Linked DNA regions of Homo sapiens. The protein of the gene in region 2 purifies or fractionates together with the protein of the main gene of each other region. This does not show direct contact. Each region holds a gene or a part of one and is shown on either strand. Other genes may lie near its edges. The genes, in order: CFHR1 and LBP.

Evidence for each region.
Region 1: the proteins of LBP (region 2) and CFHR1 purify together in Homo sapiens (affinity purification with western blotting, with the first as the bait; one study listed by BioGRID). This does not show direct contact.

Annotation. Positions count from the first base shown.
Region 1 is NC_000001.11:196,822,558-196,826,387, forward strand, and holds part of CFHR1 (complement factor H-related protein 1 isoform 1 precursor), read left to right. Parts: intron 1-2,919; coding exon 2,920-3,114; intron 3,115-3,830. UniProt on the Homo sapiens protein: Involved in complement regulation. The dimerized forms have avidity for tissue-bound complement fragments and efficiently compete with the physiological complement inhibitor CFH. Can associate with lipoproteins and may play a role in lipid metabolism.
Region 2 is NC_000020.11:38,366,978-38,370,807, forward strand, and holds part of LBP (lipopolysaccharide-binding protein precursor), read left to right. Parts: intron 1-2,017; coding exon 2,018-2,185; intron 2,186-3,760; coding exon 3,761-3,828; intron 3,829-3,830. UniProt on the Homo sapiens protein: Plays a role in the innate immune response. Binds to the lipid A moiety of bacterial lipopolysaccharides (LPS), a glycolipid present in the outer membrane of all Gram-negative bacteria.

The DNA.
Region 1 (3,830 bases), on a different chromosome or scaffold from region 2:
CACATTAACCTCGGCCTACAAAGAGTCAGGATCATCAGTATCACTGTCTTCTTCCCCCGCTCTTGTCCCACTGGAAGGTCTTCACGGCAGTAACAGGCATGGAGCTGTCCTCTCCTATGATAACAAAGGTTTCTTCTAGAATAGTTCCTGAAGGACCTGCCTCAGGAAACATTAACTGTTTTACAGTTAATTTTTTTAATCAATAGAAGAAGTTAACTATAAAATACTAATAACAATTATACTATATGAAATACATTAACCAGTAACACTTCTATATTATCATCATCAAGTATTACGTACTGTACAAAATTGTGTGTGGCATATTTTTATGTGACTGGCAATGCTGTAGGTTTGTTTACCCCCGGCATTGCCACAAATATGTGAGTAATATATTGCACTGCAATGTTACGATGGCTATTAGGTGATAGGAATTTTTCAGCTACACTATAATCTTATGGGTCCACTGTCATATAAGTGATCAGTCATTGACCAAAATGTCATTATGTGGTGAATAACTGTACGACTGTATATATATATATATATATGTGTGTGTGTGTGTGTGTGTGTGTGTGTGTGTATCCCAGAAGAAATGTATTCACAATATTCTATCAAAATATTGAGACAATAAAAATTATTTTCTACTTTTGAAATTGGTGGTTGTGTAAAGGAGGCTTGCAAGAAGACATTAACACTCCTAGCTAGCACCATTGCAGATATGCACAATGAATACTTGATGAATGTCATAGAATTCTTTCTGAAGCATAGGTACAATATAAATGGTTGATGAAAACCAAGTTATTCTGGATAGCAAAGAATATGTAGGTACAAATGTATGAAAATAAACTACTATAATTTTGGAGGAGTGAAGGATAATTGAAAGAGTTATGGTAGGTTAATACTATCAAGACGGGAGTCTTTCCCTCAACACCTTTACCAAAACTATCTAATGTCAAATTTTAAACAGTTAGATAATCAATTTCAGGTTTCACAAGGTGAAAATATTTCAAATATTGTGCAACATTAAACATTACTTCTAGATAGATGAAAAAGAGAAATTTCTCTTGATTTGTCAGCTTAATTTCTGCACACATCTTTCAAATAAGGTGAAAAATAAAATTATTTCTTATGCAGCAGTACTATATTGCAAAAATATCTTGACATAAAAACAAAGAGCAGTATTATATTGAGGAAATATCTTGAGCTAAATACGTACTCAAAGATAAAGCATATCAAACCCATAGAACGTACAACATCAAGAGTGAACCCCAACATAAACTATGAACTTTGGGTGGTAATTATATTGACAGTGAGGGAGCTTATGCATGTGGTAGGGAAGAGGAAGTGGTATATAGGAAATCTCTACCTTCCACTCAATCTTGCTGTGAAAAACCTGTAAATAAAGTATAAAGTCTAATAAAAAATATGTGTGTATATATATGTATGTGTACACAAAAAAAGAGTAAAAAGTATGAAGATTTCACCCATTTTCTACATTGTTTTAATATATCTTGCACCATAGTGTGTATGGATGTATTTATACATATATACAGTAGTCCTTTAGCATCCTCAAGGAATTGGTTCCAGGACGCTACCCACCCCCAGCAGATACCAAAATCCAAGGATACTCAAGTGTCTAAGAGAGAATGGTGTAGTATTTGTACATAACCTGTGCATATCCTCCCATACAATTTATTTTATTTTATTTTAATTTTTTTTGAGGTGGAGTCTTGCTCTGTCGCCCCCAGGCTCGAGTTTAGTGGCATGATCTCCGCTCACTGCAACCTCCCCCTCCTGGGTTCAAGTGATTCTTCTGCCTCAGCCTCCCAGGTAGCTGGGATCACAGGCGTGCACCACCACACCTGGCTAATTTTTGTATTTTTAGTAGAGATGGGGTTTCACCATGTTGGCCAGGCTGGTCTCAAATTCCTGACCTCAAGTGACCCACTCACCTCAGCCTCCCAAAGTGCTGGGATTACAGGCATGAGCTACCACACTCAGCCCTCTCATACAATTTAAGGAATCTCTAGAGTATTTATAATACCTAATACAATGTAAATGCTGTAAAAATAGTTGTTATATTGTATCTTTAATTGCATTATTTTTATTGTTTTATTATCTTTATTGTTTTTTTCAAATATTTTTGATCTGCAGTTGGTTGAATCAGACGAAGTGAAACGAGTGGGGCTGACTGTATATATATATATATATATATATATATATATATGTGCGTGTGTGTGTGTGTTCACAAGTATAAATATATAAATACAAATATACAAATACATATTTGTATATACAACATTAACCAGAATTTAGCTCTAACTTTATCTTGATTGAGTTGTTCTTAGTGATTTTCTTATATTCCCTAAATTATTTCCACTGAAACTATATTAACTTTGTAACCAGAAAATATTCAAAATGATATTAATAAACAAAAAACAAAACTACATATCCAACATCTTTACTGCACCAGAAAAAAAAATAGGACAGAGTTTCTGGCAGAGACACCTATGGCAGTCAATGAGAATAGAGAAAATAAGTAAATTGAGAGCTAAGAACAACCCTATCACTTTTCTACTGTATACTATGTAGATCAGGAAGATTTGCTACTCTTACACTCTGTCTTCATTCTTAAATTGTTGTGTGTGGGTTTTATTCTTGAAGACAATGCAGGAGAGTTCATATTTCATATCACTCCAAAATATAAATTTTATATTCATTAACAATTACCTCCTCAAATAGTCATGTACTCCTAGTTAGTGATGCTTTTCATTCCTAATTTGTACACTGGAAAGCATTTAAGCTAAAGGCATTTAAGCTAAATGAAAGAAAAACACTATAAGTGAGATGATTAAAATATAATCTAGTGATTTATTTATGTAACTTATTATGTAATTCTTCAGTTTTATGTTATTTTCCCAGCAACATTTTGTGATTTTCCAAAAATAAACCATGGAATTCTATATGATGAAGAAAAATATAAGCCATTTTCCCAGGTTCCTACAGGGGAAGTTTTCTATTACTCCTGTGAATATAATTTTGTGTCTCCTTCAAAATCATTTTGGACTCGCATAACATGCACAGAAGAAGGATGGTCACCAACACCAAAGTGTCTCAGTGAGTAAATGCTCTGTTCATTAAATGGATGTCATTCAGTGAATAGAGAAGGATATGCCAGACAAGATCATAAGGTCTTGATAATCACAGGGACAGTGACCAAAGAAGCTGGAAAGATGGGAGATGTAGTCCCCCTATTTTGAGATGCCTCCTATAAGAATCAATGAAGAATAAATATGTCAACTGTCTTGTGTTACCTGGAAATGCTCTACGTGTTGAAATATATTAATTTTTTTAAACTGATCTTTAATATATTTGACTGCTAATATTTCTTTACTAATATTCATTTCGCAGCAGCCTGATCAAAGTTTTCCTTTTAAATGTCATTTTTATACATATTCTGTTTTGAATTTACCATTCTTTAGCATATTGAAAGGAGGTTTAGCATTTTCACTTTTATATTTCAATAAATAATTTCTTTGGTCCTTCACAGTGTAGCTATATTAATTCTCCAATAAATGTAGAGAGCAGACTCCAATGATAACAGGTGTATTAAAAGAAAAAAAAATTGGGAGACAGATACATGAGGCAACAAAGGAGATAGCAATGATCTTTCTCCTAAGAAACATTTATGAGAGTTAAGAGAGAAATAGATATATGAAGAGGTTCTTTTGTCCCTAAAAGGTTGACAAACATAAAATATTTCATTATAAAAACCATAGAGCAAGAAAATGAAATATTTTCTTCTATATATACATATAAAAGAACCAAAAATA
Region 2 (3,830 bases):
AAGCCTAAATAACAGAGGCCACGCCCCATATCTTGTGGGACCACAGCTTGTCCAATCTTTTATTGGTGTTATCTAAGAATCCCAAGGAATGCTGGCATAGTCCATAAAATGTACCCTAATGAACAGCAGCTAACAATTACAGGGGGCTTCCTAGGTGCCAGGCATGTTCTTGGTTCTTTAAAAAATTATTTTTTGGCCAGGCATGGTGGCTCATGCCTGTAATCCCAGCATTGTGGGTGGCCAAGGTGGGTGGATTGCTTGAGTCCAGGAGTTCAAGACCAGCCTGGGCAACATGACGAAACCCCATCTCTACAAAAAATACAAAAATTAGCCAAGCGTAGCGGCACATAGCTGTAGTCCCAGCCACTGGGGAGGCTGAGGTGGGAAGATCACCTGAGGCTGCGAGGTTGAGGCTGCAGTGAGCTGTGATTGCACCACTGCACTCCAGCCTGGGCAACAGAGTGAGACCCTGTCTCAAAAAAAATTATTAAAAATGTTAGTTTTTGAATGGGAAATAAATTCTCAAGGTTCAACATTCAAAAGATCTAGAAGGTTATAGAGTGGAAAGTCTCACATCCACTCCTATTCCCTAACCACCCAGTTCCCATCTCAAGTTTGCCAATATTACCAGATTTTACATATCTTTCTGATGATATTCTATGTATATACAGGTTCACTATCTCTTATCTGAAATGCTTGGAAAAGCAACTCTGCCTACCTTCTTAGTGAAGCATTTTACCCCCTCAGCCTTCCAAATGTCTCCCTTCTAGAAGAGGATGTAGGTTTTACATATACATAACCAAAAGGTTCATGGGAGTGCTGTTTTTCCACGAATAGCCTCCTAAAAAGGAAGAGTCTTGCCCCAAATTAAACTCTGTACCTATCTCTAGTACACAGAAAATTAAGAGCACTTTTGAAATGGTGGAATCTAGGGCTGGTCGTGGTGGCTCACACCTATAATCCTAGCACTCTGGGAGGCCAAAGTGGGGGGGTAGCTTGAGGCCAGGAGTTCAAGACCAACCTGGACAACATAGCAAAACCCTGTCTCTATTTTAGAAAGAAAAGTTAAAAAAGAAAGAAAGAAAGAAAGAAATGTTCTGTGGAATATCATATTAAAAGAGTAATACGAGAAAATTAAATATTTTTTTTAAAAAAGAAATGGTGGGATCCAGCTGTGTCATATTTCGAAAACACTGGCATCTGACCTCAGCATGCCCAATTAGCAGAATGTGATGAGGGGATGGAGAAACCTTGGGAGAGGTAGGGAGGGAGAAAAAATGGGCCCAACTTTTCTGGAGGACAATTTGGCAATACCTGCCGAAAGTTTTAAAAGCATTGCTGGCCAGGTGCGGTGGCTCACACCCGTAATCCCAGCACTTTGGGAGGCTGAGGCGGGCAGATCACCTGAGGTCAGGAGTTCAAGACCAGCCTGGCCAACATGGTGAAACCCCATCTCTACTAAAAATACAAAATTAGCCGGGTGTGGTGGTGCACACCTGTAATCCCAGCTACTTGGGAGGCTGCAGAAGGAGAATCGCTTGAACCCCAGAGGCAGAGGTTGCAGTGAGCTGAGATGGCACCATTGCACTCCAGCCTGGGTGACAAGAGCAAAACTCCATCTCAAAAAACAAAACAAAAAAAGAAAGCATTGCTGTCCTTCAACCCAGCAACTCCACCTCTAGGAATGTTTTCCTGAAAAGAATAGCCAAGGGTGCTCACAGGAGGTGGTCATTATAATGGCAAAACCCTGGAGACAACTTGATGCCCAATAGAGTTTAATCCATCGCAGGACCCATACATAACGAAATACAACACAGCCGTGAAATAGATGGTGCAGACTCTGTGTCTGACATGGAGAGATGGCCAGTTTTGCCACTAGGAGAAAAAGGCACAGAGAATTTTGTTGGAAATAAAATCAATCGAAAGCAACTTCCAGCTTTATCTGACTCCCTCAGGCCTCTCCTGGCAGACTTGTATATTTTCTTCTCTTGATGTAATCTCCTAATTCTGCTCCCAGTTAGCCAGGCTCTACCCCAACATGAACCTGGAACTCCAGGGATCAGTGCCCTCTGCTCCGCTCCTGAACTTCAGCCCTGGGAATCTGTCTGTGGACCCCTATATGGAGATAGATGCCTTTGTGCTCCTGCCCAGCTCCAGCAAGGAGCCTGTCTTCCGGCTCAGTGTGGTAAGGTTCAGAGCCTTTGCAAATGCTGTTTCCTTTTCCCCACATGCTTTTCCCTTTTCCCCACATGCTTTTCTCCCCACTCACCACCTGGGTAATTCCTCCAGGTCTCAACTTAAATATTACTTCCCGAGAGAGGGCTTTCTTGCTGGCCCTTACCCCCAATCTACCTTACGCCCCTTGCCACTTTTTCTTGTAACACCCCATTATCTTTCTTCTCAGCGTTTACTACAAAGATACTTTGTAGCTGTCTGCAGGTGTATTTGTTTAATGCATGTATCTCTCACTATGTGAGTCTGGGCTATTGTGGGGAGAAAGGTATACTGGTGTTTGTCTATTTGTCTATTTTGACCTTGGAAGACTACATTTCCCAAGCTTCTTTGCACTTTGATTTCCACCCAGGTCAACCAATGGGAGGTACTGTCAGGAGAATGATGGCGGGGAGGAAGGATGAAGCCAGAGTACTATTTCCTCTTTCTTTACCACGGCAGAGGCTCTGGCTGTGACTATGTCTCCTCATGGTGACTTCCATAATTCCACCTCCACTCTTTGTTCCTCTAGTCCTGGGGTGGATACAGCCTCCTGTCTCTGGATAATCTCTGGGTGGCCTCACCAACTCTTTACTAGCTTCTCAACAATTCCATCACTTGTATAACCAATTCCCCGTATTAAATTCCCTCTGCGTTAAACATTGAGAGTCAGTTTTCCTTTTTTGATGGACTCTGTCTAATAGGGAAGGGATGTTGGGTCCTTTGGGGGCCTTGCTCCCTGGATGGAGAACTCTGCTCTCTTGTTTCTTGACTTTTGAAATCAACAAGTCAAATCTCTACCAGGGTAATTCTTCCTAGAGGCTATATCTGCAATTTAATATTGTTGTTATTGTTATCAAAAGTGTCATTATTAATATATTTTAAATTAAAATATAATTTACTGTCTGGGTGTGGTGGCTCACATCTGTAATCTCAGCACTTTGGGAGGTCAAGGCAGGAGAATCACACAAGGCCAGGAGTTTGAGAGCAGCCTGGGCAACACAGCAAGACTCCATTGCTACAAAAAAGAAAAAACAAATAGCCAGGCCTGGTGGCATGCACCTGTAGTCCTATCTACTCAGGGGGTTGATGTGGGAGGATCGCTTGAGCCCAGGAGATTGAGGCTGCAGTGAGCCATGATTGCACCACTGCACTCCAGCTGGGCGACAGACAGAGACTCCATCTCTAAAACAATAATAATAATTTATTAATGTTGTTACTAGGGCTGAATCTTGACCTGAGATAACTAGAAATGATCCTTTTTAGAGCTTTCCAAGGGTAGGTACTCTATACCTTCTCTTAGTAGTCTGTTCAAAGTTTAACTGCTAACATAAACAACAATTTCAAGTAAAAATGTTCAAGTCCAAGTTCAAATATTGTTTGAGCACCTACAGTGAGCCTTCTGGGAGTCTATGATCTAGTGGGCAAATTTCCTGCTTTAGCTCATTGAGCTGTTTGTTGAGAGGAGACAGTTGGTCCCTCGTCATCATCCTTCCTATACATACAACCTTCATCACTTACACCTGCTTCCTTCTTCTGGCATTTCCAGGCCACTAATGTGTCCGCCACCTTGACCTTCAATACCAGCAAGATCACTGGGTTCCTGAAGCCAGGAAAGT